7 linked regions of the Homo sapiens genome follow. The protein of the gene in region 4 interacts with the protein of the main gene of each other region in a biochemical or structural test. Each region holds a gene or a part of one and is shown on either strand. Other genes may lie near its edges.

What was found.
Region 1: the proteins of LDB3 (region 4) and ACOT6 interact in a test that uses a peptide from one of them, tested with the Homo sapiens proteins (one large-scale study listed by IntAct).
Region 2: the proteins of LDB3 (region 4) and PLCB2 interact in a test that uses a peptide from one of them, tested with the Homo sapiens proteins (one large-scale study listed by IntAct).
Region 3: the proteins of LDB3 (region 4) and ADGRA2 interact in a test that uses a peptide from one of them, tested with the Homo sapiens proteins (one large-scale study listed by IntAct).
Region 5: the proteins of LDB3 (region 4) and SCN4A interact in a test that uses a peptide from one of them, tested with the Homo sapiens proteins (one large-scale study listed by IntAct).
Region 6: the proteins of LDB3 (region 4) and SLC16A7 interact in a test that uses a peptide from one of them, tested with the Homo sapiens proteins (one large-scale study listed by IntAct).
Region 7: the proteins of LDB3 (region 4) and CXCR1 interact in a test that uses a peptide from one of them, tested with the Homo sapiens proteins (one large-scale study listed by IntAct).

What each region holds. Positions count from the first base shown.
Region 1 is NC_000014.9:73,611,381-73,615,316, forward strand, and holds the start of ACOT6 (acyl-coenzyme A thioesterase 6), read left to right. Parts: upstream 1-1,136; 5' UTR 1,137-1,191; coding exon 1,192-1,652; intron 1,653-3,936. UniProt on the Homo sapiens protein: Catalyzes the hydrolysis of acyl-CoAs into free fatty acids and coenzyme A (CoASH), regulating their respective intracellular levels.
Region 2 is NC_000015.10:40,297,936-40,301,435, reverse strand, and holds part of PLCB2 (1-phosphatidylinositol 4,5-bisphosphate phosphodiesterase beta-2), read left to right. Parts: exon of another isoform or gene 1-769; intron 770-1,961; coding exon of another isoform or gene 1,962-2,027; exon of another isoform or gene 2,028-2,190; intron 2,191-2,207; coding exon 2,208-2,308; intron 2,309-2,471; coding exon 2,472-2,638; intron 2,639-2,727; coding exon 2,728-2,874; intron 2,875-3,055; coding exon 3,056-3,213; intron 3,214-3,476; coding exon 3,477-3,500. UniProt on the Homo sapiens protein: The production of the second messenger molecules diacylglycerol (DAG) and inositol 1,4,5-trisphosphate (IP3) is mediated by activated phosphatidylinositol-specific phospholipase C enzymes.
Region 3 is NC_000008.11:37,795,709-37,799,682, forward strand, and holds the start of ADGRA2 (adhesion G protein-coupled receptor A2 precursor), read left to right. Parts: upstream 1-1,174; 5' UTR 1,175-1,560; coding exon 1,561-1,826; intron 1,827-3,974.
Region 4 is NC_000010.11:86,667,159-86,671,310, reverse strand, and holds the start of LDB3 (LIM domain-binding protein 3), read right to left. Parts: upstream 2,801-4,152; 5' UTR 2,741-2,800; exon of another isoform or gene 2,643-2,740; 5' UTR 2,620-2,642; coding exon 2,527-2,619; intron 1-2,526. UniProt on the Homo sapiens protein: May function as an adapter in striated muscle to couple protein kinase C-mediated signaling via its LIM domains to the cytoskeleton.
Region 5 is NC_000017.11:63,945,419-63,948,918, forward strand, and holds part of SCN4A (sodium channel protein type 4 subunit alpha), read right to left. Parts: intron 3,348-3,500; coding exon 3,193-3,347; intron 2,646-3,192; coding exon 2,472-2,645; intron 1,750-2,471; coding exon 1,627-1,749; intron 221-1,626; coding exon 1-220. UniProt on the Homo sapiens protein: Pore-forming subunit of Nav1.4, a voltage-gated sodium (Nav) channel that directly mediates the depolarizing phase of action potentials in excitable membranes.
Region 6 is NC_000012.12:59,704,029-59,707,528, reverse strand, and holds part of SLC16A7 (monocarboxylate transporter 2), read right to left. Parts: intron 2,758-3,500; 5' UTR 2,728-2,757; coding exon 2,511-2,727; intron 1-2,510. UniProt on the Homo sapiens protein: Proton-coupled monocarboxylate symporter. Catalyzes the rapid transport across the plasma membrane of monocarboxylates such as L-lactate, pyruvate and ketone bodies, acetoacetate, beta-hydroxybutyrate and acetate.
Region 7 is NC_000002.12:218,164,163-218,168,355, forward strand, and holds the start of CXCR1 (C-X-C chemokine receptor type 1), read right to left. Parts: upstream 2,801-4,193; 5' UTR 2,746-2,800; intron 1,083-2,745; 5' UTR 1,050-1,082; coding exon 1-1,049. UniProt on the Homo sapiens protein: Receptor to interleukin-8, which is a powerful neutrophils chemotactic factor. Binding of IL-8 to the receptor causes activation of neutrophils. This response is mediated via a G-protein that activates a phosphatidylinositol-calcium second messenger system.

The sequences.
Region 1 (3,936 bases), on a different chromosome or scaffold from region 4:
CTATCAGACTGCCCCCTTCCCTTGAACCTTCAGATTCAGGGTTCTACACCGAATCTTGTTTCATTGTTTTTGTTTTTAAATCTTGCCCATGCCTTTGTAGATAGTACCTTTATAAAACTCTCCTCAATTACACAGGCTGAGAGTGCCACTTGCTTACTGCCAGAACTCTGTATGCATACAACCCAAAATGGACTCTGCCAGTGATTAGATTTGTGAGGTAAGAAACAAAACAAAACTTTCACTGGGTACTAACCTACAGGTGTGTCAGTGTAGTGTTTTTACACATTAGCCCATTTAATGGTCACAATAAGCCTTTTCAGATAAGAAAACTGAATTTAGAGGGTTATGTTTCTTGCTAAAGATCACCAGGTATTAATATTAAGGATCAGGGTCAGACCAGAACTCGGCTAGGTCTGCCTCCCTAAACATCTGCTTTGCTCCAGGTACCATTAGCCCTGGAAAAAAGGCTTGGTAAGGGACTGAGGGGTAAAGGACGGATTACGACCATGTTTCTCCAAGGGGTCACCTGAGTACAATCACCTGGGATGCTTTTTCAAAATCTAGATTCTTGGACTGTATCTCTCTCAATCCTTTAGCTCTCAGTGGTTTTTGTGCCTCTATTTCGACACTCACCACATTGGATTGCAGGAATAGTCATTAACTCTTTTTTTTTTTTTTTAGACGGAGTTTTGCCCTTGTTGCCTAGGCTGGAGTACAATGGTGCAATCTTGGCTCAATGCAACCTCTGCCTCCTGGGTTCAAGCAATTCTTCTGCCTCAGCCTCCCAAGTAGCCGGGATTACAGGCATGCGCCACCACACCTGGCTATTTTGTATTTTCAGTAGAGATGAGGTTTCACTCTGTTGGTCAGGCTGGTCTTGAACTCCTAACCTCAGGTGTGATCCACCCACCTCGGCCTCCCAAAGTTCTAGGATCACAGGCGTGATCCACCGCCCCCGGCCGGATTGGTCATTAACTCTTATTTCAGCAGATACTCTTTCATTTGGGACACTGGTGTATTTGCACAAATTCTAGGCGCCCCACGCAGCGGCCTGGAGCCTGTCCCCAAGTCCAACCAATGGGAGTAGTGTTAAGGGCTCCGCCCTCGACTACTTTCCAGCGCTCGGCAAAGCCGCCAGGCCCGCCCACTGACTCCGCGGAGCTGGGTCGCCCCTGTTCTACCCAGATTGGGATGGCAGCGACGCTGATCCTGGAGCCCGCGGGCCGCTGCTGCTGGGACGAGCCGCTGCGCATCGCAGTGCGCGGCCTGGCCCCGGAGCAGCCAGTCACGCTGCGCACGTCCCTGCGCGACGAAGAGGGCGCGCTCTTCCGGGCCCACGCGCGCTACCGTGCCGACGCCCGCGACGAGCTGGACCTGGAGCGCGCGCCCGCGCTGGGAGGCAGCTTCGCGGGGCTCCAGCCCATGGGGCTGCTGTGGGCGTTGGAGCCCGAGAAAGCCTTGGTGCGGCTGGTGAAGCGCGACGTGCGGACGCCCTTCGCCGTGGAGCTGGAAGTGCTGGACGGCCACGACACCGAGCCCGGGCGGCTGCTGTGCCTGGCGCAGAACAAGCGCGACTTTCTCCGGCCGGGGGTGCGGCGCGAGCCGGTGCGCGCGGGCCCGGTGCGCGCCGCGCTCTTCCTGCCGCCGGATGAGTAGTCTGCCCAGAATTTGGTCGAGCTCTGCGACCCCCACCGGCCCCTTTCCTGTCCTGGGAATCGCGTGATTGTGGAACATCCCTGAACTTGTTCCTTCGCTCCAGAGTCTGTCATGGATTCTGAGTCTGGGCGTCCGCTGTTGCCCAGGCTGGAGTGCCGTGGCTGGATCGTAGCTCACACTGCAGCCTCGAACTCCTGGGCTCAAGTCCTCTCGCCTCAGCCTCCTGAGTAGCTACTCCAGTCTTTCCTTTTTAAGTTTCACGTCCCTCCCTGGAGGCACCACCACTTTAGCTATGTGCTGAATAGTGCATTCAACTTATTATATATTTATTGAGAGCCACTATGTGCCAGCCATGTGGTTTTGTTTGAATACGATATGGGCAAAACCTTAAGCTGATGTGCAAGAAGGATTTTTGCCTCCTTTCACATCAAACTTCCAAAGAAGCTAAAATCCACAGTATTGGCAATGCCCTTTAATTGTTTAAAAACACACACAAAACTGCCTGACAGTCCTCTCCCTTCTATCATAAACATGCTGTACGTGGTTCTCAACCTGCAATGATTAGCCGCCCTCCCTGGGGGAAATTTGGCAATATCTGGAGACATTTGTGGTTGTCATATCTGAAGGGAGAGGTGCTATTGGCATCTAGCAGGCAGAGGCCAGAGATGCTGCTAAACATTCCACAATGCACAGGACAACCACCAGAACAAAGAATTATCTTGCTGAAAATGTCTGTACTACTGAGGTTGAGGAACCCTAGTCTAAGTAAACACAGGATGTTTGCTAGGTAAAGGTAGCCCAGAAAGAAGACTCCTGATTAATCCCTTCTAACTAAATTCCTGACTTAAACCTCTACCATATAAAAATGATGAGCCGGGCACAGTGGCTCAGGCCTGTAATCCCAGCACTTTGGGAGGCTGAGGTGGGCAGATCACTTGAGCCCAGGAGTTCAAGACCAGCCTGGGCAACATGGTGAAACTCTGTCTCTACAAAAAAAAAAAAAAAAAAAAAAAAATTAGGCAGGCATGGTGGTGCATGCCTGTAGTCCCAGCTGCTTGGGAGGCTGAGGTGGGAGGATTGTTTGATATCAGGAAGTAGAGGTTGCAGTGAGCTGAGATCACGCCACTGCATTCCAGCCTGGACAACAGAGTGAAACCCTGCCTCAAACAACAACAACAACAACAAATTCTAGAGTTGCAACAGCACATAGAATCCTTAAACCGAATTCTGTGATTATTCTCCAAAACAAGAAAACTTGCTTTATTTTTACAGCTCTTCAGCAATTCTTAGCCTTAACTCGTGGCTGCCCACTGTACTGTGAATTCCTGGGGCTGGAATTGGGTCTTACAGATTTCTAAATATCCATGTTCCTAGAGGCTTTCGCAAGGATATAGTAGGAGCTCAATAAATCATACTGACTGGGCCAGGCGCAGTGGCTCACACCTGTAATCCTAGCACTTTGGGAGGCTGAGGTGGGTGGATCACTTGAGGCCAGGAGTTCAAGACTAGCCTGGCCAACATGGCAAAACCCTACCTCTACTAATTATATAATACAAAAAAATTAGCCAGGCATAGTGGCTCACACATGTAGTCCCAGCTACTAGGGAGGCTGAGGTGGGAGAATCGCTTGAACCCGGGAGGCTGAGGTTGCAGTGAGCCAAGATTGCGCCACTACACTTCAGCCTGGGCGACAGAGCGAGACCCTGTCTCAAAAAAAAAAAAAAAAAAATCACACTGACTAAGAATCAACTAAAACCTTTCATTAAAAACAAACAAGGAGCCGGGCGCAGTGGCTCACGCCTGTAATCCCAGCACTTTGGGAGGCCGAGGCAGGTGGATCACCTGAGGTCAGGAGTTCGAGACCAGCCTGACCAACATGGTGAAACCCCGTCTCTACTAAAAATACAAAAGTTAGCCGGGCATGGTGGTGGGTGCCTGTAATCTCAGGAGGCTGAGGCAGGAGAATCTCTTGAACCCAGGGGGCAGAGGTTGCAGTGAGCCAAGATCGCACCGTTGCACTCCAGCCTGGAGGACAGAGCAAGACTCCATCTCAAAAAAAAAAACAAGGCGGCCAGGCGCGGTGGCTCACGCCTCTAATCCCGGCACTTTGGGAGGCCAAGGTGGGTGGATCACGAGGTCAGGAGTTCAAGACCAGCCTGGCCAAGATGGTGAAACCCTGTCTCTACTAAAAATACAAAAAATTAGCCGGGCATGGTGGCGGGCGCCTGTAATCCCAGCTACTCAGGAGGCTGAGGCAGGAGAATTGCTTGAACCCGGCAG
Region 2 (3,500 bases), on a different chromosome or scaffold from region 4:
TAATTACAAGTTGTAAGCAGGGTCACCCCATGAAGCAACTTGTGTGAATTACAAAAAGGAGCCCTCTGGGCTGATATGGCCCTGAGCTAGGCTTCAAGCCTGGCCAATGGAGCGAATCTCAGCCCCTGTCCCTGCTTGGCCAGTGCTCTTGTGTGGGTCCCAGCCTATACCCCATGGAGTATTTTCTCCTGGTAAGAATTTGGAACGTTATAAATAAATAAAACCACGACCCCCATTGATCACCTGCCCACATGAATCCCAGGAGGAGCATTTACCCCACAGCCACAGCTCTGCAGAGTTGGTGACTCCTTGATGCAGTCAGTCACAGGGATCCAAATGTGGCGTTGGGGAGAGGTAGGAATGGGCTCCTGCGGCTCCCCTACAGCCAGCAACACTTACCTGTGGTCAGCACACATCCACCCTCCCTCTCTCCTGCTGCCTGAGCTCCTCCCTTGGCTAAGTCCTCCTTATCTATCTGCTTTCCTTGTGTCTCAGTAGAGGCTACTGACCCAACTTTGCTTGGAGCTGAAGCTCCAGAGACAGGGAGGGGTTTGGGGAGATCCAGTTAGACTCTCCTGCTCAGACCCTCTGCTCCAAACTAAGACTGATGTTGGCCTTCCAGTGTGATTCTGAAAGACATTTAATGTTTTTTTTGGGGGGGGAAGGAATGCAAAGGTGCAGAATCCCTGAATACCACAAATGTACTTTTCATTTCTATTTCTATAGATTTGCCTATTCTGGTGGTAAAGTAAATGAAATCATAAATATATGCTTTTCGATGTCAGGCTGTATTCATTTCTCATAATGTTTTCAAGGTTTATCCATGTTGTAGCATGCATGAGTACTTCATTCCTTTTTACCACCTAATAATATTCCATTGTATGGATATACCACATTTTGTTCATCTGTTTATCAGTTGGTAGATGTTTGGGTTTTTTGTACTTTTTGGTTATGAATATTCATGTACATGATTTTGTGTGAACATGTGTAAATTCTCTTGGGTATATACCCAGGGGTGGAATTGTTGGGTCATGTGGTCACTCTATATTTAACAATTTGAGAAACCGCCAAACTGTTTTCTAAAGTGAGAGCATTGTGTAGGGATTTATTTATTTATTTTTGAGACAGAGTCTCACTCTGTTGCCCGGGCTGGAGTGCAGTGGCGTGATCTCAGTTCACTGCAACCTCTGCCTCCCAGGTTCAAGCAATTCTCCTGCCTCAGCCTCCCAAGTAGCTGGGATTACAAGCATGTGCCACCATGCTGGGCTAATTTTTGTATTTTTAGTAGAGATGGGGTTTCACCATGTTGGCCAGGCTGGTCTCGAACTCCTGACCTCAGGTGATCCACCCTCCTCGGCCTCCCAAAGTGCTGTGTGGGGTTTTAGGTTAGTCACATCCCGCTGACACTTGTGATTGTCTGTTTTTTGTTTTAGCCATCCTAGTGGGAGTGGTATCTCATTGTGGTTTTGATTTGCATGTCTCTAACTACAAATTATATTGAGCACCTTTTCTGTGTTTATTAGTCACTTATATATCTTCTTTGGAGAAATACCTGTCCAAATCCATTGTCCATCTTTCAACTGGGTTGTCTTTTTGTTGACTTATCTCTTATCGGATATCTGATTTGCAAATATTTTATCCCATTCTGTGGGTTACCTTTTCACTTTCTTGATGGTGTCCTTTGAAGCACAAAAGTTTTTAATTTTGATGACGTTTAATTTATCTTTCTTTGTCCCGGTGCTTTTGGTGTCTCCAAATATTATTGTTGAATTGTCCTCCTTTCAATTCTATCAGTTTTTGTTTTATATATTATGGGGTTCTGTTGTTAGGTGCATATATGTTTATATTCAAATTGCTTCTTTTTGAATATTTGTCCTCCACTTAAAAAAGATAGCCTACTAGCCTGGCAAGCAGCATCATTTCTTCTGACCTCTTTTCTACCTCATTCTGGTTATTCTTAGTTCCGATCCTGCCCCAGCCAATGGAATAGCCACTGTACAAAATCAGGGTCAGAGCAAACCAGCTAAGCATGCTCTCTGCTCAGCAACCAGGGCCTTGAGAAGTGGATGCTTGGGTGTCCTTGAAGTTCTTCTGTCTGCCTTGAGCCCGCCTTCTGACCAGGTCCCCTTGACCAGGGCTGGGCCGAGTTTGTGGTTCTTAGCTCTGAGAAGGTGAGGGCAGGGGCAATAAGGTTACTATGCCCCTAGAATGACGCCATCAATCCTGAGGACTTCCCAGAACCTGTCTACAAGAGTTTCCTCATGAGCCTCTGTCCTCGGCCAGAAATAGATGAGATCTTCACTTCTTAGTGAGTTTCTTGGGTTGTGCTGGTCATGGGAAAAGGGTGGTGGCTAACAATCCCCTCCTCCCACCTGCCATGCCGGGAGTCAGGAGGCTTCACTGGACAAGGGGGTTGTCTAAGCCTCCAGGCCCAAGGGATATGGACCTGTGCTCTTCTCTCTGGCTTGAAGCCATGCTAAGGCCAAACCCTACATGACGAAGGAGCACCTGACCAAATTCATCAACCAGAAACAGCGGGACTCCCGGCTTAACTCCCTGCTGTTCCCGCCAGCACGGCCTGACCAGGTGCAGGGCCTCATCGACAAGTATGAGCCCAGTGGCATCAATGCACAGAGGGGTGAGGACTAAGGGAACCCCTTGTCCCCTGTGGTCCTGTCCTGCCTTGGCAGCGGGGTTGTAGCCTGACAGCTATCTCCTGTCCCCCAGGCCAGCTGTCACCTGAAGGCATGGTCTGGTTTCTCTGTGGGCCAGAGAACAGCGTGCTGGCCCAGGACAAGCTGCTGCTCCACCACGACATGACGCAGCCACTCAATCATTACTTCATCAACTCGTCCCACAACACCTACCTGACAGGTGGGCCCTGATAACATTGGTGCCAACCTCTGCTTTCACAGGGGTTCCCTGCATCCTCCACAGGGGTTGCCCACATGCTGCTGGCCCTGAGAATAACACAGACCATGATGGAGTGGCGGTAGGGGGAGAGCTGGGCTGCCTTTGGGTGATGCCCTCACCTCTTCCCCATCCTCTGGCTCAGCCGGCCAGTTCTCAGGCCTCTCCTCGGCTGAGATGTACCGCCAGGTGCTGCTCTCTGGCTGCCGTTGCGTGGAGCTAGACTGCTGGAAGGGGAAACCCCCTGACGAGGAGCCCATTATCACCCATGGCTTCACCATGACCACAGACATCTTCTTCAAAGTGAGACCCTGGGCACAGAGGCTGGTGGCCGTGGCAGTAGGGAAGGGCTCTGGGCCAGAAGCTTTGAGGGGTTGGAGGGCTGAAGCTAGAGAAGATGAATGGCTGGAAGGCCTCAGACCATTGGGGACCAGCAGGGATTGGGGGCCAATGGCGGCCATGCAGTTATATGTGTGTATTGAAACTAGGCAGGGGGGAAAAGTGCTATCACGAGACAGGCAGTCGGAACGCTGACCTTCTGTTCATGGAGTCTCCTTCTCCTCCAGGAAGCAATTGAGGCTATTGCAGAA
Region 3 (3,974 bases), on a different chromosome or scaffold from region 4:
AGGCGCCCACCACGACGCCCGGATAATTTTTGTATATTTAGTACAGACAGGGTTTCATCATTTTGGCCAGGTGGATCTCAAACTCCTCACCTCAAGTGATCCGCCCGCCTCGGCCTCGAAAAGTGCTGGGATTACAGGTGTCAGCCACCGCGCCCGGCCTGCAGGCAGCTTTATACCCACCACTAGTTGTCAAGGTCACCCCTGCCACCACCAGTCCTCTGCCTTTGGAAACCATGTGCCCCTCCCCCCCACCACACTCTCTTATTCTAATGCCACGATTTACTGGGCATCTAATGCCACTCTATAAACTGGGGAGCAGGCAGAGCCCCATTTCAACCCCAGAGATCTGCTACCCCAGCAAGCTAGGGGCTGTGTCCAAGGTCAGACAGTAATGAGAGGCAGAGCCGAGTCTGGAATAGGGGTCTCCAGACTCACTGCGCAGTGCTCTTTCCACACCCTGCTGCAAAGCCCTGCTCCTTCTCATCTACTTTTCCCTTGTCCCACTCACTGTCCCCGAAACACACACACACACACACACACACACACACACAGCGTTGTGGAAAATGTAGGAGGCCCAGTCTAGCCTCTAGCCTTGTCTGCCTTGGCCTTTGACCTCTCCTTGGCCGAATGACATGCACCCCCCGCTGAGCGAGGTCACCGCAGCGGAGGAGGGTCTGCTGCCTCCTTGTCTCGGCTGCCATCCTCCTGCGGCTGCCTCCACCGGAGCTGGAAGGAGAGTGAGAGCCGACTTCCAGACTGATCATCGTGTCAGGGGCCAAAGGAAACCTCGGAGCCTTCCACCAAGTTCAACCCAAAACAGGGCGCCCCAGACGTCTCTGTCCAAGCCCGCGGGTCCAGGAGGGCCCCAGCAGCCTGGAGACGCAAGCTGCACCGGCACGGACGAGGGAAATTTTGTGGAAGGTGGTGGTGGTCGGCTCAGAGGTCTGAGATGGGTTGCGGAAAGGAAGGGTCCTGGCCCGGGGCGCGGGGACAAGCGGGAGAGGAGTGTTGGTGCAGGGCGGGCGCGGGGACGCAGGGTCCTCGAACCAGCTGGCCCGCCCCCACTCGGCAGAGGGTCTAGGCCTGGCCGCGTGTCGGTCGGCGCTAGGGCCCCGCGGAAGGCCCGGGCGGGCGGGGACCGGCGGCGGGAGCGGCGCGGCGCGGAGCTGCCTCCATCCATGGCACGGAGCGGCGGCGGCGGCGGCAGCAGGAGCCCGGCGCGATCCGCTAGGTCCCAGCCCAGCGCCCAGCGAGCAGGCGACGCGGAGGGGCCGGGCCTCCAGTGTCCCGAGGGCCGGGCGCTGAGACTCCGGCCGCGCAGCTGGGAGCTGCCCGCGCTGCGCTGACAGCCGCGCCGACGTCCTCCCCGCCGGGGCGCTCGCAGGACATGCCCCCGGGGCGCGGCGGCGGGGACCCCGGGGCTCGCCTCCGCCCAGGGCCCCCCTCCACGCCCTCGGGAGCCCCGGGCCCCCGCTGAGCACTCCTCCCGCACGCCTGGGTCCCTCCGGCCGGCGCGCAGCCCGGCCCCAGCGCTGTGGGTCCCCGCGGGGCGATGGGTTGATGGGCGCCGGGGGACGCAGGATGCGGGGGGCGCCCGCGCGCCTGCTGCTGCCGCTGCTGCCGTGGCTCCTGCTGCTCCTGGCGCCCGAGGCTCGGGGCGCGCCCGGCTGCCCGCTATCCATCCGCAGCTGCAAGTGCTCGGGGGAGCGGCCCAAGGGGCTGAGCGGCGGCGTCCCTGGCCCGGCTCGGCGGAGGGTGGTGTGCAGCGGCGGGGACCTCCCGGAGCCTCCCGAGCCCGGCCTTCTGCCTAACGGCACCGTTACCCTGTGAGTACCCTACCAGGCCAGTTCCGTCCGAGCCGGGACTGGGGACGAAGGGAGGCGAGACGGGAGGGGTGGGAGCAGGGGGAAGGGGGCTATCCCCCCACTTCAGAGATTTCTGGACAGGCCTGGGTTCAGGCCCCCAGAGGGGAAGATTGGAGGAGCAGGGGAGAGACTGGGGCTCCAGGAGCGTGGAGGCGGGAAGGGGCTGCGGGGGACAGGCGCACCCCAGAGAAAGGCACCGCAGGCGCCCACTCACCTGCACAGGTGAAGTGGAGAGCACGCCTGCAGGGCACCCACGCCCCGGATTTCCAGCCTGGACTAGGGTTGCGGACTTTGGGGACCTGAGAAGGGTGAGAGCGGGGAATGCTCAGGAAAGATCGACGCTCGTGGCCCAGGAGGGGGCTGTGGTCCTAACCACTACGGTCGCGTCCCGGACTGGGCTGGAGGAGTCTCCGGATTTACCTGGCTGGCCTTGTCCCTTCAATTGGGGTCATCCCATCCTTGCCCCCTGGCCTGCCAGCGCCGCTTCCAGCCGGTCTCCTTAGGGCAAGGGGAGGCTGGGCTCAGAAAAGTCGGCCCTTGGAATACCGGCGCTCCTGGGCTGCAGGAGACCCTGGCGTCCCCATCCCTCTAGAGGCCCCTCTCCCACGGCGCCGTTTGTGCAGTGAGCTCTGTGCTGGGTCCCGCGTCCTTGCCTCTCCTTTGCCTCTCCTGGAAGTAACTCGAGCTTTGGCTGTTTCTCCATTGACTTCGCGCAAAGATTGCGAAGAAAGAAACGCGGCTGGGGAAGCGGGGTTCCCTCACCGCAGCCCACCCGGGCCTCCTTCCGCGACTTCCCTCTTAGTCAGGGCCTCAGTACGCCTTTGCTTTGCTGGCAGCGAGCGCTGCAGCGCCGCAGCCCGACCCCAAGCCTCCTACAAGGGGGTCGCAAGTCCCAGCAGCCGCGCGAGCATTGGCGACCCCTCCCCACCGCAGAGATTTCCTGCGCCGACCACGTGCTCGCAGCTCCACGCACGCCGTGGATTTGAGGGTCGGGCCCCCGCGGCCGCCGCTTCCTTTCCTGTCCCAAATCCAGCCTAAGAGCCGCTTCCCTTTCCCTGTCCTCCTGACCCCAGTGGCAACCGTTTCTCCACCGCCCCTTGCCCGCAGTCGGGGCTGGCCCAGTCTTTTCGATTGTGTCCAGAACAATACAGTAACGCCTCTGGTTGGGTGAGTTCAGAGGCTGCCCGCTTCCTGACAGGACACAACTGGTCAGCCTCTGACGCTGGCCGCCCGGCCTGCATTTTCCCCGGCCCGGGTGTGTGTGTGCATGTGTGTGCCTTAAGGGTGGAGGCGGTGTGTCTGCTCGCTGCCGCCTCCCTGCTGCTCAGGGTAAGGCTGTGGCCAGGGAAGGCACCTGTGGCTGTTCAGGGCAGCTCTCTCTGACTGTCCGCTGGGGTTTGAGGGTCCAGGCAGGCCTGGGCATTCCCCAGCTCACTTAGTTCTGGAGGAGAAAAATGCTTGCTCTGCGGAACAGTCGGTAGCGTCTGCGTGAGTCCCAGCTGCATAAGAATTCAGAGCTGAGGCCGGGTGCGGTGGCTCAGGCCTGTAATCCCAGCACTTTGAGAGGCAGAGGCGGGTGGATCACGAGGTCAGGAGTTCGAGACCAGCCTGACCAACATAGTGAAACCCCGTCTCTACTAAAAATACAAAAATTAGCCAGGCGTGGTAGCGCGCGCCTGTAATCCCAGCTACTCAGGAGGCTGAGGCAGGAGAATCGCTTGAACCCGGGAGGCGGAGGTTGCAGTGAGCCGCGATCACGCCATTGCACTCCAGCCTGGGCGACAGAGCGAGACTCCGTATAAAAAAAAAAAAAAAAAGAATTCAGAGCTGAGAGCTGTGCGTGCATGTGTGCACACTCTTGTGTCTGCTCATGCACATATGTGGGATGTGTGTTCTCTGCGTGTCTCTGTGTCAGGGTTAGGGAATCCTAACATATCAAAGGCAGAAGGAAGTGGGGGAGGCGGTAGATAGAAAGGCAGTTTTGCAGTACATCTTAGAATGATCAGGCCATGGTTAATTCCTATCCACGCCACTCCACAGAGAGAGCTGGGCCAGCTCTTGGTAAGAATACATTAGAACCGGCTGGCAGCAAAGGTGACCCCTAGCTCA
Region 4 (4,152 bases):
ACAGACCCTCCCCAGTGCCTCTCTATTAGTCCCAGTTAGAGGGGTGAGCAAGCCAGCATGGGAGTTAGGGGTGACAGGATACAGGAGATCCACCCATGGACATCCCTGTCCTGTGAGCAGACTCGAGCCTCAGTTTGCCAGGCTCTGAAGCGAGGTAACGATCCCAGCCTCGCCTGCCTGCCCACCCCACAGGGTCACACACTCTTGCCTCTGGTGCCCTATGGCACAGGCTCAGGTCCTGGCTGGGGTGGGAGTGGGGTTCCTCCAGAGAGCTCTGGCCATGCCTCCCCCGTAGGGGGATGTCCCTGGTGCAGAAGGGCCCTGCGAGCCCCGGCAGTAAATCCTACAGCCCTGGTGGGATGGCAGGGCTGTGTCCACAAGGCCTGCCCTGCCAGCGGCACTGAACCAGGACACAAGCCCAGGCTATCAGCAGCCTACCACCAAAATTTCTCAAGAGGCTCCGAGCCCTGGGGAAGGCTCCAGTACCCAGTCCAGCCTGCTCCGCGGCTTAGGTGATTTGGGGTATGCCCCTAAAGGAAGCCGAGAGGCCATATCATGCCCATCCCCCGGTGCCCTGCCCGAGCTTCGGGTTCTATTTTTAGAAGTCCCCACAGTCATTGGATCCAGCACATCCCTGCATACCCCCTCCCCAGAGTAAGGACATTCCTCCTGCTATCTAGCTTAAGGCTTCTGGGCTGCCATTTAAGCCCCTGGCTGGCCGGGGCCAGGTGGCACATAGACCCTGGGTGAGGTCATTGGCTATCCTGAGTGCCACTGAGCCCAGTGGCCAATTTGCACCCATAGGGATAGGGCAGGGAGCACCAGCAGGAGGCCTCGAGATGGTGGAGCTGGGGGAGATGTGGGCTCAGTCCCAGGCAGGGGAGGCCACAGGGCCCATGAGAGAGCACACAGAGGCTCCACCTTATACAGGAAGGAGTCCTGCAAGCATGGGGGTGGGGAGCTGTGGGAAAGGGCAGTGGGAAATCCACTGGGGCTCACATGCTCACAGGTCACCACCTCATGCAAAGTGTGCAAGGCTGTGGGTGCCCAGGACCCTGTGGTCTCCAGGGCAGTAGATCTGGAGGGGTGGAATCTCCAGGTTAGAACAAGCCACATCTGCAACTGAAGGATGGAGGTCAGGGCCTGTTCCCTGCACCAGAGCCAGGCCAGCACCCCTCCTGTAAGCATGTGGCCTCTATGGCTATTATAAGGCTCTCACGGCATCCCTGGGTGGGGCTTCTACTTCTGGGGTCCCCTCAAGTACCCGTGGAACAAAAAAAAGATTACTCCTCCACTGGGGGCATTGGCTCCTGACCCGCTGCCCAGGTTCCCTGGCCCCTCTGCCAAGCCCCTTCAGGCCTTGCCCACTTCAGTGCTTCCCCTCCAACCCCTTCCTCCAGCCCCCAGGCCCAAGGCAAGTCCTTAAGGCCCCAGAGAAGAAACTGTCCCCTTGTTCCCCTGGTGGGCAGTAGCCCAGATACCCCTGCCTACCTACCACCCTCCAGTGACAGACTGGGGGCCTCCCCCTCTGGCCTTGTGCCCGGAACAGCACGGTCAGGGGCTCAGCCACCAGGCAGGGTTGTCCTTGCCCTGTATGCCTCACAGTTCGCCCTGAGCCTTGGGGCCTTCAGCCCTGGGTCTACCAGTGCCTTGCTGGGGAGTCTCTTTGTTTGACAGAAACTGACGGAGTGCCTACTACGGTCTGGGGGCTGTTCCCCCATCAGTCCCTGCTCCTGGAGTGCTTCCTCAGGAGCATGGCTAACTTTCTGCCTCTCTGGTGTTGCTGTCTCCAGCCAGGCGGTAGAGTTACTCAGACAACCCCTGATGTTCTGTGTCATCTGCATCAGGCCATGCTGCTCCCCATCACAGACACTGCAGGATAGGGGGCCATCTCACCAGGCCCCAGCACTTGTGGGGAACAAGACCTGAGACAGACAAAGCAGCCATGGTGAATGGGGAGAAGCGCCCAGCCCCATGAGCCAGGGTCTTGGTGTCTCAAGTTTGGGATGGAGCAGGTGCCCAGTACTCAGTCCAGCCCAGCCCCACACTCTGACAGCTGGGCAGCCAAGGTCAACCGTCTGTCTGTCCATCTATCCAACTGCCCATCACCTGCCCTCTCCATGCTGGGAATACTCCCTTCCCAAAGCAGCTGCCCATATCTAGGGAAATGCTCAAGGCTTGGGGGCACCCTGAGCCCACTCTAACAGTAAAGGGATCAGGAAGGTGCTGTACTCTCTGTCCAGCTACCTGCCTGCCTGCCTGCCTGCCTGCCTGAAAACTCAGCATTTTCTTCTCTGCTAAAAACACCTACCACCTGCTCATGATGTCTCACATGCATAACAGGCCGGCGCGCTCCAGTGAGCAAACAGCTGTGGCTGAGACCAGAGGACCAGGCCAGTCCCAGGGGATGGGGCATGCTCTGCTTTCTGAGAGGCTCAGAAAGGACAGACAGACAGACGGACACACATGCCCTCCTCCAAGCGTGCCTGCCCCATCGGGTGCCAGGCTGTGGCAGGGTGCACTCACCCGGGAGATAGTGAGGGGCATGTTGAAGTCCTTGCCCCCCTGCAGACGGAAGCCCCAGGGCCCGGGCCCAGTCAGGGTCACACTGTAAGACATGCTGGTGCTGTCAGCGGCCGCCTCTGCAGACAAAGGGTAGAGAGGGTTGAGTGAGAGGGCACTCAGGCACTCCGCCTGCCCGGTCCACACCTCTGCCCCTGCCCCTGACCCCCAGCCTTGCCTGTTCTGTCCCTTGCTGCCCAGCCGGGCTGCGTGGAGCTCTTGAGAGGCTCCTAAGAATAGCTGGGAGCGAATGCCATCGACACTGATATCTGCCTTCGGCTGCGCCCATAAATGGACTGTAACCCTACACTGTGCCTGCCAGCCTGCCGCCTCCCAGCCGGTCCACCATGACTCACACGGCTAATATAGCCCCTGGGGAGGGGTGTCCGGCACCCAGCACCCCCCAGGGGGGAGGAAGGGGAACTGGCCTGGTTGGTGAGAATGCTCTGGTCTCCTTGCTCCTGTGTCCTCTGGAGAGCGTAGACACTCGCTCTTCCTGCCCAGTGGTACCCATCCTCTTGCTCAGAAGACCAGGGGCTGAGCTCCCTTGGGTAGGGGCTTTGCTGCCGTGTGGTCCCTGGCCAGGATTCTGGGGTTGTGCTTTATCCAGTATGGGGCCCTGGAGGTGCCTTGGCTTGAGCTGAGCCTCCAGCTGGTCTGTGACTGGCCCAGGGTTGTCCAGCCATAAAAACGATCATCATAACAGCAGCTCTGGGCATAGCCAACCTCAGTATGGGCCCTTCACTCCCTGGGATCCTGAGAAGCTGCCACCTGGGCCCGCAGGAGACAAAGCTCAGGGAGGTTAAATGACTTCTCCAAGGTCACACAAGGAGTGGACCCAGGTCACACTGGAGCCTGGGCTGATTCCTACAGAATGCATGCCAGATAATGGGCTCCCAGTAGCCACAGAAGCCTCCCAAAGCCCTGGTCCTGGGCAGCTGGCCCTCTGCCTGCACCCCTTGGCATAGGGTCTGAAAGCAGGTCTGAGGCAGGCCCATCCCCTCCAGACCCTCTGGGGGCCCAGCCAGTTATTCCTGGCTCTCCTGTCTTTGTGCTCTGGAAAACTTGACGGCAGCATGGAAAGCTCCAGCTGCCAGTGCCACACGCCAGGCCCCGTGCCCTTTGCGCAGGAATGGCAGGGGGCAGGGAGAAGGGAGGAGACGCCATTTGCTCAGCTGCTAGACACAGGGCCAGGAGGGGCAGGGAGGGGGAAGCACGTGTGGCATGTTCAGCCTGTACCCCAGAGACAGTGTGTTCTGGATGGGGGCCTCAGCACCTTGGGACTTCTGCCAGTGCGGTCTTTGGGCCAACCCCTTCCCCAAGAAAGACCTCAGGCCCCTATGTGGTCTGGAGATAGATCAAGGCCCACCCTGGCTCCTTGGTTGGAGAAACTGAGGCTCAGGGGAGGCAACTGGGTTGGCTGCTTGCTGGCCCTCTTGGAGGGGTCTGGCTTGGACCCTGAGGAGTCAGTAGAGGCCTGGGTGTGAGTCATTTCTCAGCTTCTAGCCTCACTCCTGGGGCCTGGCACATGCAAGGTACAAGGTAGGATCACCCATATTACGGGGTTGTTTTGTCACTTGCCCAAAGTCA
Region 5 (3,500 bases), on a different chromosome or scaffold from region 4:
GCCAGCGGACCTGGCCTGTGTGCATGAGGCTCTCGCACTCAGACTTGTTGTTGACCTCGGAGATGTCGAACCTCTCAGAGGTGGTGGTGTTGATGCAGTAGTAGAACTTGCCGGCAAACAGGTTGACACCCATGATGCTGAAGATCAGCCAGAAGATGAGGCAGACAAGCAGCACATTCATGATGGAGGGGATGGCGCCTAGGAGGGCGTTCACCACCACCTGGGGGCCAGGGGGTCCATTGCCAGTGCCTCTCCCAGCCTCTGAGAGAGGGCTCCACATCTCTACGCCACCCAGGGGACCAGGCAGAGCTGGGCATTGTCAATTAGGGAGGGCTTCCTAGAGGAGGGCCGACCTGCTGGGCTGTGTGTGTGCAGGTTGGGGGTGGTAAGGGGGAGGGGGAGGGAGCTGCAGGCCTGGTGGTCAAGAGGGCTCTCTGCTTGACTGGAGCCATCAGCCCAGAGTAGGGGTGCTGGGTTTCTCTGGAAGCAGCCTGGTCACAGGTCACCAGGCAGGAGACAAACACTCTTTGCTCAGCCCCCATAGGAAACTCAGCTCACGTGACCCAGCCCCTGCTCATGGGTTTTCAGCCCCAGAGCCCCAGACACAGGCACAGAAAAGAGGGCACCAGGGTCTTTGAAGCAGCAGGAGCTCTGGGACAGAAGCCCCATCCCCACCAGCCCTAGTCACACAGCCCACCTGACCACTGCAGACTGGGCTGGATCTGACACCCCTCTCTTTTTAAGGAGGAGCCATTTCATGACCTCTAGAGTGGGTGGCACAAGCCTGGTGTGCCCAGGGGAGCTCTGTTCCTGGTTGGGGCACTGACCAGCTGCATGGCCACAGGCAGCTTGTTTCCCCTCAACGGGAGGGCTCCCTGGCTCTGGGGGGTCAGAGGGCCCAGCATTCGGCTGGCCTCTTGCAGGGACAGGAAGGGGCCGCTTGGGGGGGCTCGCCATGGCCTCTAGATTTGCAGAAATTTGTCCCGCTGGAGCAGGTCTTGCTCCCAGCAGATCTCTCTTCCTGGGGAAGTCCCATTTTTCTTGCCCCCCCCCCCACCCCGCCGCAACCCTGTGTTTACCTGCCACTTCCGCTCTCCAGGGCCTGAGTGGATCTTCCCCAAACTGACCCCAAGCTCAAGGGCATGGCCCCAACCGTGACGCCAAGCTCATCAGTGGGGGGTGAGGGGAAGGCTCAGAGCCAGGGTGCAGGCACCTTGTTTCAAAGCCCTGGGTGGCTCAGTCTGAGGCTGGGGAGGGCCACCCATAAACCCACTCATAAACCACCCATAAACACCACATAAACCTGCCTTCCTTCCTCCTCTTCCCTGGCCGTGGGGCCCTCCTGGGTGCTTCTGCAGTCTCTGCTCCCCTCAAGTAGTGGCAGAGGTAAGCTAAGGGCGGGCTGGATCGGGGGCTGAGAGTGGGAATGGGGCAGGCAGAAGATGGCCTGCGGGGAGGACAGCTAGGGGAGGTGGGGGCCAGACCTGGCCTCAGGCAGGGCCGTGGGTCCAAGCTCTCTGCTTCCCTCTGGTGGTGGTTGGAGTATAGACATGCACCCTCCACCCTGCAGTGAAGGTGGCCGGTCCCCCATCCCCAGCCCACCCCAGAGGCCCCTTCAGCACCCACCCTCATGCCCTCGAATCGGGACAGTGCCCTCAGGGGACGCAGGGCCCGCAGTGTCCGCAGGGATTTGATGGGTCCCAGCTCCGAGTAGCCCAGCCAGTTGGCCACCAAGCTGATGATGGAGACCTGCAGGGGAGGGGTGAGGGGATCAGTGCGTGCAAGGCCCCCAGCCTCCCCTCAAGCCCAGGCCACGGGGGTCTTCCTGGACTCACAGCTCCTGGTTGTCTCCCTTAGATCCCCTCCCTAGTGGGTGGTCCTGTCCGGTGGGAAGAGCAGCCCTGGGACCTGTCCCAGTACCTGTAGGAGCCTGGCACCACCTCAGTGATGTCATCAACCAACTGGGGATGACTGTGAGTAGGAGGGATGGTACCCGACTCCTTCGGGGAGGCCTGTGAGCCCATCTAAGAGGCTAAGAAAATCCTCCATTCCTGGCCGGGCATGGTGGCTCACACCTGTAATCCCAGCACTTTGGGAGGCCAAGGTAGGAGGATTGCTTGAGCCCAGGAGTTCAAGACCAGCCTGGGCAACATAGCAAGATCCCATCTTAAAAATAAATAAATAAAATGTATGAAGTAAGAAACTCCTCCACTCCTATTGGCAGGGATGGTAAGTAGCCCTCCTGCCTGCTGTCTTCCCCCAAGGCCTCCTTTCCCTGAGGAGAAGGGAAGGCCTCCCAGTCCCTAACCCCTCCCTGGGCAGCTCTGTCTGAGAAGGGCAGCACTGATTGAGGGTCTGACTCTGGGGGTGGCCTCGGGCAGGTCCTGCCCTTCAGGGCGTGGGCTTCCTGAGGTCCCCGCCACACTGACAGCCTCTGGATGTAGCTACGGGGCCAGCGTGGGGGGACTCACATCCACGATGAGGAAGTCGAGCCAGCACCAGGCGTTGGTGAAGTACACCTTAAAGCCGTAGGCCACCCATTTGAGCAGCATCTCCATGATGAAGATGTAGGTGAAGACCTTGTCGGCATATTCTAGGATGGTGCGAATGACTCGCCGCTGCTCAATGTAGATGTCCTCGAAGGCCTGGGGGCACCAGCACCACCAGGGTGGCTGGGGTCCAGCAGGCTGGGGTGGCAGCCAGGTCCCCTGCCCTGCTCTATGCTGCTGGTTCCCGGGGGTCTGCCGTGGGGGCCCAGCCCAAGGGACAGGCTGTCCGCATCTCCTGGACTCCCACCACCCATCATGGGGATGAGAGCGTTTCCCAGTGGGGAGAATCCCTCAGCCCCCCTTCTCCAAGCCCAACAACAGCAAATTGCCATCATCTGCTGGGCAGGTCCACAGTGACACATCTTCAGTCCTGCGCCCCCAGTTCCCAGGGGTCTCCTGCCTCCTTATCAGCAGAGAGTGCACAAAAGTCAGCACCCACGTAATAAGGGAGGCACCTCTGCCATGTTAGAAAGTCAGCACATCCTATAACCTATCCCGGAGGCACAGCGAGTTCCTTTAGGATTCTCAGGGTTTGGGACTGACCAGAGCATGGCCCTTCCTGTGTGTGGAGACAGGGAGCCCCAAGAGGACCTGCTGTGGGCCTGGCCCCTGCCCCTGACCCGTGCTCCCAGGCAGTGCCTACCAGAGCCCCACTGCTGAGCAGGATCATGAAGACAATGAAGGTCTCGAACCAGTTGTGCTCGACAATCTTGAAGCAGGCCCTGCGCAGAGTCCACCACTTCTTCCCACGGCCCTGGGAGATGTCCACGTAGAGGCAGGGCCAGCGCTGCACGCAGGCTGATGGGGTGAGGGGGGACAGGGACAGGCACCACATCATGGGCCTGGGGTTGCCTTGGGGTGCACAGTCAGCGCCCTCCCATGGCATCCCAGGATGCCCCTCTCCAGCTCCCAGACCCAGGGCCCCCACCTCCTCCCTCACCCAGCTCCATC
Region 6 (3,500 bases), on a different chromosome or scaffold from region 4:
ATATATTAAAATAGAAAAATAAGTATGAATAAAATAAAAACATTTATTTGTAGTAAATATAGTATATTTACTTTTTATAATTTCATATTGAGATTTAGTGGTTTGAGAAAGTTAATTATGCCATTGTTCATTCTAATGTTCCTTTTAGATCCAGCCAGAGGGTGGAGGGCTGTCATAGGCAAGTCTATAAACACATGCTTCTTTTGTTCAATGGAGAATATTGAGATACCAGGCTCTGACTAGGACTGGCTAGATGTTATGTAGTTCTGTTTCTTCCTTTGGGAAGGCTGTATTTCCCAGCATCCATGGCCCCTAACTCTGGGTAGGGCAGTATAAGAGTTCTGATCAATAGAATATGTACAGAAATAATGTTTATTCCTCCCAGGCATACCCCCTAAAATAGTCCATATGATCTTCCATGCTGTCTGCCTTTACTATTTGTCCAACAGATGGAGCAGATTTAGGGAACAACATACAAAGCCTTGGGTGATGGAATAGCCACTTTTTGAAACATTGCTTCAGAAAGAAATAACCTGTATTGTTTTAAGTCATCAAGACTCTGAGGTCTGAAAACTAACAGAGAATGTAAATTAAGATTTGGCTTAATTAAAACAGTATATAAAATTTTGTCCTACTGATGAGTTAGTCAACTATCTGCTCAATAAGGAATTATGACTATGTAAGACCTGAAGTTCAAATTCAATGGACTTATATTAATTCACTAGAAGAGACTGTTTCAATTGTATTTAAGAGGCAAGAAAACCCTCTACATATCTTAATATTAGCACGTTTTGGAGCTGAAATCAAGATGACTGTGTGCTGCTCTAGCAAAACATTATTAAACAACACCTGTCCCACAGGATACAGGAATATCTACTCTACAATACCTACTGTTTCTATGGTCACAAGAAATAACATTCTTACAATCTATAAAGCAACTGTCCAAAGGAGATTCATAGAATGTGTGTTAGAAGTAGAATTTTCCATTGACACGCCCAAATAGTATTTAAAGGATACCTTTTGATACTGGAAGAAAAATGCATGTTTAACCTAACCAAATGAATAAGGGAAACATATGCTGTATTAATATAAAGTCACTATATATAAAAAGTATAAAACACATTCCAACACCAACACACATAAACACACACACACACACACACACAGGGAATTATTTCAGGATCAACTGTTTACCTTCGTAGTACAACAAAAAGATAATGTCCTAAAGAATAATTATTATGTCACTGAACAAATGACATTGGTGGAGGTGGTACACAAGCCACTGAGCTGAAGTAGAAAGAATTGAATCAGGTTTATAGAAGGCCTGGGCCAGATCTGGCTTTGTCACTCTCTAGATGTAAAGAGAAAGTTATGAGAAAGTCAGAGACCACAGGTGTTAAATGCTAGGAGTTACAGTCTCTGTTTACTACTAACAAGTTGTTTGACTTGGGAGAGCTATTGTATATATTTCCTTAGCTATGGAATAAAGAGAAGATAATACTTATTTCACGGATCATTAAGAGGATTAAGTCATATCACACATATTAAGTACTTAGGCCTTGGGTGAAAGTAAATATTACTAAATACTGGATATTATACTAATGTTATATTTTCATGACTAAGAGCCATATTATCCTTACTTGAAAAATAAGAAATCACAGAAGATAATTGATATAATTTCTTTAAATGACTATAGTCTGAGTCTATATCTATCCCTTAAAGTCAAATATCCACTTGAAAAATAAAAACGCTAAAAGACATATTTTAAGTAATGACTTTCAAAAAATTCTACAAGAGAGTCTGGTCTGCTATTGAGATTGATTTACAGAAAATAGATGACATAATAAGGCACCAATAATTCCAAATTTGCAACATTTAGAAGTGGGATGGTACTTTGATTTCTTCATTATCCTTCATGACTAATACCCTCATTTGAACATAGAATGTAATAAGATAATTTCCAAGCAACAATTTAAGTTAAAAAGATGTCCTATTTAATGAGCCTTATAGAGATAAATAATTATTTCAGTCACACAAATTTGAATGGGTCTAGAATGTACATGTTAACCCTTCATTTTTGCAGCTTAAAGTGATGTACTTTCTGGGCTTATAAACTGTCAGCAACTTAAATTTTCTTCTCATTCAGAAGAAAGCATTTCTACCAGAGGTAGCGATTGTGAAAAATGACATCAGCAATATGTTGTGGACTTTATTTCAAACTAAATGAAGTAGCCTCACTTAGAAATTCCATAATTTAGTAAATCTTGCTTTGTGCTTACAAATTCTTATTCAAACAAATCCTCCATTAAGACTCAATTCGAAGCAAATAGCTTAAGATGCTGAATCACTAAAATCATTGAAATTTCAGTTCTAATTATACTTTTGATTGGTTTTAAGTGACTATAACATAAAAACAGGGTTTTAATATACCAAGACACTCCATGTAAAACATTGTGACATGGAGGAATTATTTTCTTAATTCAGGATTCTATTTATTGCAAGAAGCTTACCTCCTGCGTACATAACAGCCAGCATAATGGATGAAATCCATGCTATTTCACTGTAGGTAGTGTGGAATATTTGCTGAATTTCTTTGAAGAATACGGTGACAGCTTTGGGGAATGCATAGGAAAATCCAATGGAGATAAAAGCTGCTCCAACCACAATCCAACCCCATCCTCCATCTGGAGGTGGATGCACAGGTGGGGCACTTGGCATTGGTGGCATTTCTGCTCCTCTAGTGGAAATTCAAGTAACCTATATTAAAATAATGAAATAACAGTTTAAATTTTATTTCCCCTTTTGTTTACCACTCTTCATAGTCACTAAAATAGTACTTTCCAGTTAAAACTACAATATGATTTTTCATGAATATTTTTCACACTCTTATACTCAGAAAATTACCAGAAAATGTACAAAAACAATTGATGCAAGTTATATACCTTTGATTATTGTGGGCTAAATATTTAAATAATTTAATTTGATTATTGAAACAAAAATTACTCAAAGTGAAGTTAAGAATTTAGATCTGAACTGAAGTACCATTTTACATTATACATCAGTCATAGCTCTAAGATAGATCTGATACATATTCTACTTCAATCACCAGTTGTTTTAACCTCATTAATTGATACTTTTGGTCTCATTTTTCCTTCCTGTTTAAGGCTAAGCCAAGGAACGAAATGATGGATGCAAAGCCTTTTGACATGATCTATTGGCTTTTTTTATTGCTTTCTGTTGTCTACGCTTTTTGATGATTGTAGAGATAATTCTAACTCACTTTTTTCTTTTTCTTTTTTTTTTCTTTTTCTTTTTTTTTTTTTTTTTTTGAGACAGAGTCTCACTCTGTGGCCCAGGTTGGAGTGCAGTGGCATGATATTGGCTCACTGGAACCTGTGCCTCCCAGGTTCAAGCGATCCTCCTGCCTCAGACCCTAGTAACTGGGATTACAGGCAGGCGCCACCATGCCCGGCTAATTTTTGTGTTTTTAGTAGAGATGG
Region 7 (4,193 bases), on a different chromosome or scaffold from region 4:
AGGTTGGAAGAGACATTGACAGACGAAGAAGTGTAGGAGGTAACACGATGACGTGCCAAGAACTCCTTGCTGACCAGGCCATGCATAGCCAGGATCTTGAGGAATCCATGGCGAAAATTTTGGCCGATGAAGGCGTAGATGATGGGGTTGAGGCAGCTATGGAGAAATCCCAGAATCTCAGTGGCATCCAGGGCCCGGCCGATGTTGTTGCGGCGCTCACAGCTCTCCTGGATCACCTGGGTCCTCATGAGGGTGTCTGCCAGCAGGACCAGGTTGTAGGGCAGCCAGCAAAGCAGGAAGATGAGGACGACAGCAAAGATGACCCTCATGGCTCGGTGCTTCTGCCCCATGTGGGCCTTAAACAGTGTACGCAGGGTGAATCCATAGCAGAACAGCATGACAAACAGCGGCACGATGAAGCCAAAGGTGTGAGGCAGGATCCGCAACACCATCCGCCATTTTGCTGTGTCATTTCCCAGGACCTCATAGCAAACTGGACTGGAATTGTTTGGATGGTAAGCCTGGCGGAAAAGGAAGAAGGGCAGGGACAGATTCATAGACAGTCCCCAGCAGCCAAGACAAACAAACTTGACCAAGTGACGCTTCTGGGTCAGTGTGCGTGTGGCATGGACAATGGCCAGGTAACGGTCCACACTGATGCAGGCCAACAGCAGGATGCCACTGTAGAAGTTGACTTCCTTCAGGAGTGAGACCACCTTGCACAGGAATGTGCCAAAAATCCAGCCATTCACCTTGGAGGCGGCCCAGATGGGCAAGGTCAGGGCAAAGAGTAGGTCGGCCAAGGCCAGGTTCAGCAGGTAGACATCAGTGACGGAGCGGCCGACCCTGCTGTATAAGATGACCAGCATCACCAGGGAGTTTCCCAGCAGGCTCAGCAGGAACACTAGGGCATAGGCGATGATCACAACATACTTGTTGAGTGTCTCAGTTTCTAGCATACAGGGGCTGTAATCTTCATCTGCAGGTGGCATGCCAGTGAAATTTAGATCATCAAAATCCCACATCTGTGGATCTGTAATATTTGACATGTCCTCTTCAGTTTCAGCAATGGTTTGATCTAACTGGAAGGTTAGAAGGAAGGAAATGTGATTTAGTAGCTCGGATTCAAGGCATTCTCATCAATGATGTGAGAGCAGTTACTGGGATATCCTTGGCTTCCCTGTTGGTTTGGCAATGAGAGCTCTCCTTCCTCCTTTGACTCCAACCTGGTCTTCTTCGGAGGTTGGCTTCCCAGTGTTCTCCACCTTCCACAACTCTAAGGCCTGGCCTGAGTGTGGGGTAAGATGGAATATGGGGAAAACACCTTAGCCCTAGCTCAACCTACAACTGCCTCCTCTCAGCCTATGTCTCTACCTCTGTCCCTCTTTAGCCTTCTCCATCCTCAGCTGTGTCTGTGCATTTGGATGTGGGGACCAGGTTGGTCTTAGACATTCAGGGAAGGGCCAGCATTAAGCAAAATGCAAGAAGGCAAACCTGTTCCCAGGTGTCCCCTTCTACTATTTCTATTCCTATGTTCTCCCTGATTCTTGTTTACCCTCCTTAAAATCTACTGGGGGAAGGAAGTGATAACAACACATTGCATTAAACTGTATATTTTAAGCCTTCTTTAAATGAGGAGCACATATTTTGTTCCTCTGTCTAAAGGAGTTTTAAGTATTTGAGAAGATAAAGTCTCCATCTTGGTCCCTGAAACCCTCCACCCCTGAAAAAATCCACAGAATCATTCAAGAGTTTTCAAATATATTTCCTATTGTGAAATAGTTTACTGAAATAAGATCTTCCCAGAAGCCCAGTATGTGAAGCAGATAAAAGCTGAGCCACTGTGGGGCAGAGTGTGCTAATCTCCGAACCCAGATGGCCCCTAAAGAGCCCCTCAAAGCTCCAGGACTCTCCAGAGAAGTCTGAAAGCCTTTGGAAAGTCACCGAGGTTGGTTGTAAAGACACCTAGCATCCAGTCTTCATTCCATCCTGATTCTACCATTAATAAGTTTCGTGTGTAATCCCAGCCCTTTGGGAGGCCAAGGCAGGCAGATCATGAAGTCAGGAGTTCGAGACCAGCCTGACCAAAATGATGAAACCCCGTCTCTACTAAAAATACAAAAAAATTAGCTGGGTGTGGTGGCGTGCACCTGTAATCCCAACTACTCAGGAGGCTGAGGCAGGAGAATCACTTGAACCCGGGAAATGGAGGTTGCAGTGAGCCGAGATCGTGCCACAGTACTACAGCCTAGGCGACAGAGTGAGACTCCATCTCAAAATAAATAAATAAATAAATAAATAAGTCTCATGACCTTGAGTGGGGTCTCGTACCCCTATAGATTTCAGTCTTCTCATCTGCAAATCGAGGAAGACAGAATCATCCACCTCTCATTTGCTGCCAGGCCTGAGGGTGTATGATGAGTCCACTCAGATCCACACATTTTAGTGTGTTCCCTCCCTACCAGTATTTGCATTTTCACTGAAGACAAAGTCTTAAGGTGAAGCAATAAACATCAAATTGGGGAATGGTCAGCCTCTTCCCACAAAAGGGCAAGGTATAAAAAGAGGGGATGAGGAGGCTGTCCTCTTCACCTGCTAACTCCATGTATGAGTGGTGGTCACAAGAGAGGAAGCGGGCAGCAGAAATCCTCAGCTCCCACAGAAATGAATACATTTTCCAAAATAAAGTCAAGCCAAGCAGCCCTACCCCACAGAAAGTCCTAGCAAACAGAGGTGGCTTCCTACCTGAAGCACCGGCCAGGTGTGTCCAACAGTAGGAGCTGCAGTCAGAGATCAGAGTGACTTAACAGCTAGAGGGCACTTGATGAATAAACGGAAATAAGGAAACCACATCAGATGACACCTCCCTTCTGAGCCCCACCCATGTCTACATTTGGGGAAGAACAGTTTAAGTCAAGGGATCACAGACTTGTGATTAGAGACTGCCAGGGTCCATATGACCAAGTGGGGGTCCCAGGTGTGAAGCTGGGGTTGAGGGTCCATTATCTGAATTCTCCACTCTATGGATGATCATTTTTATTATTTTCCTTTTCTTGAATTTATTTCCATTTGTTTATTCCTAAATTCCCTAGTATATCACCTGTGGAAGCTTGCAACTTCCTGACCAAGTATAAAGGGCGAAGGATTTGACTTACAGCAGAGACTTCAGAAGGAGTCCCCCATAGGAGGGACTTGGGGGCAATCCAGTGGGAAAGAGGAGGAGGACTGCGCTTGAGTTGTGTTTGAACAGCAGGCACTCAATCTCTACTTATTTTGCAGGCTTCTTTGAGGTGGCCTAGCTCGGATTCAAGGCATTCTCATCAAGGATGTGAGAGCAGTTACTGGGATATCCTTGGCTTCCCTGTTGGTTTGCCAACGAGAGCTCCCCTTCCTCCTTTGCCTCCAACCTGGTCTTCTTTGGAGGTTGGCTTCCCAGTGTTCTCCACCTTCCACAACTCCAAGGCCTGGCCTCAATCTCTACTTATTTTTCAGGCTTTTTGAGGGTATTTGAATGGAACACAAACCCTCCTTTGCCGCCAGCCACTCTTTCGCACAATCACTGCCAATGACCAGTTGGTTTAAATGGCCCTGAGGCTGACGGCATAGGCCACTCCCAGAGTCTGGCTGGTTAGCAGAGAGACCACAGAGCTGGGGCAGTCCATGAATGGAAGAGCTGTGGTCAAGGTCACTGCAGCCCCCATCTCAGTAACGGAGAATGGCTTCTCTGGGAACCCACCTTAGCTGCCTCCAGCAGCTAATGGCTGTCCCCTAGCTTGAGTCTTCTGGCACCTTCGTCACTTCTCCATATAACATGAACCCTGCTGTGAGGCATTTACAAGTCAGCCCTCTTCTAGCTTGGGAGCCATGAGACAGCAAGAACCTTCTTCAATTCATGTTTATGTTCTCTTTCAGGGAATATAGTAGGTGCTCAATCAATGGTTGTGGAATAAATGAAGGGAGACATTTCTCCTGTGATTCATGGACCATAAGTCACCACCACGATTCAGTGTCTATTGCTTTTGGCTACACACTAAAGTCACTGGTATGCCTGATAGCTTCACTTCCACACAGCCCAGTTGGTCTGCCTGGCATTGCTTCTTTCCAACCTTCCTCTAATGTTTGGAGCTAATGCCAGTCTGTGCAAGTATAAATCCTGCCCTACCACAAATGCCAAATTTACCATGCCATGGATT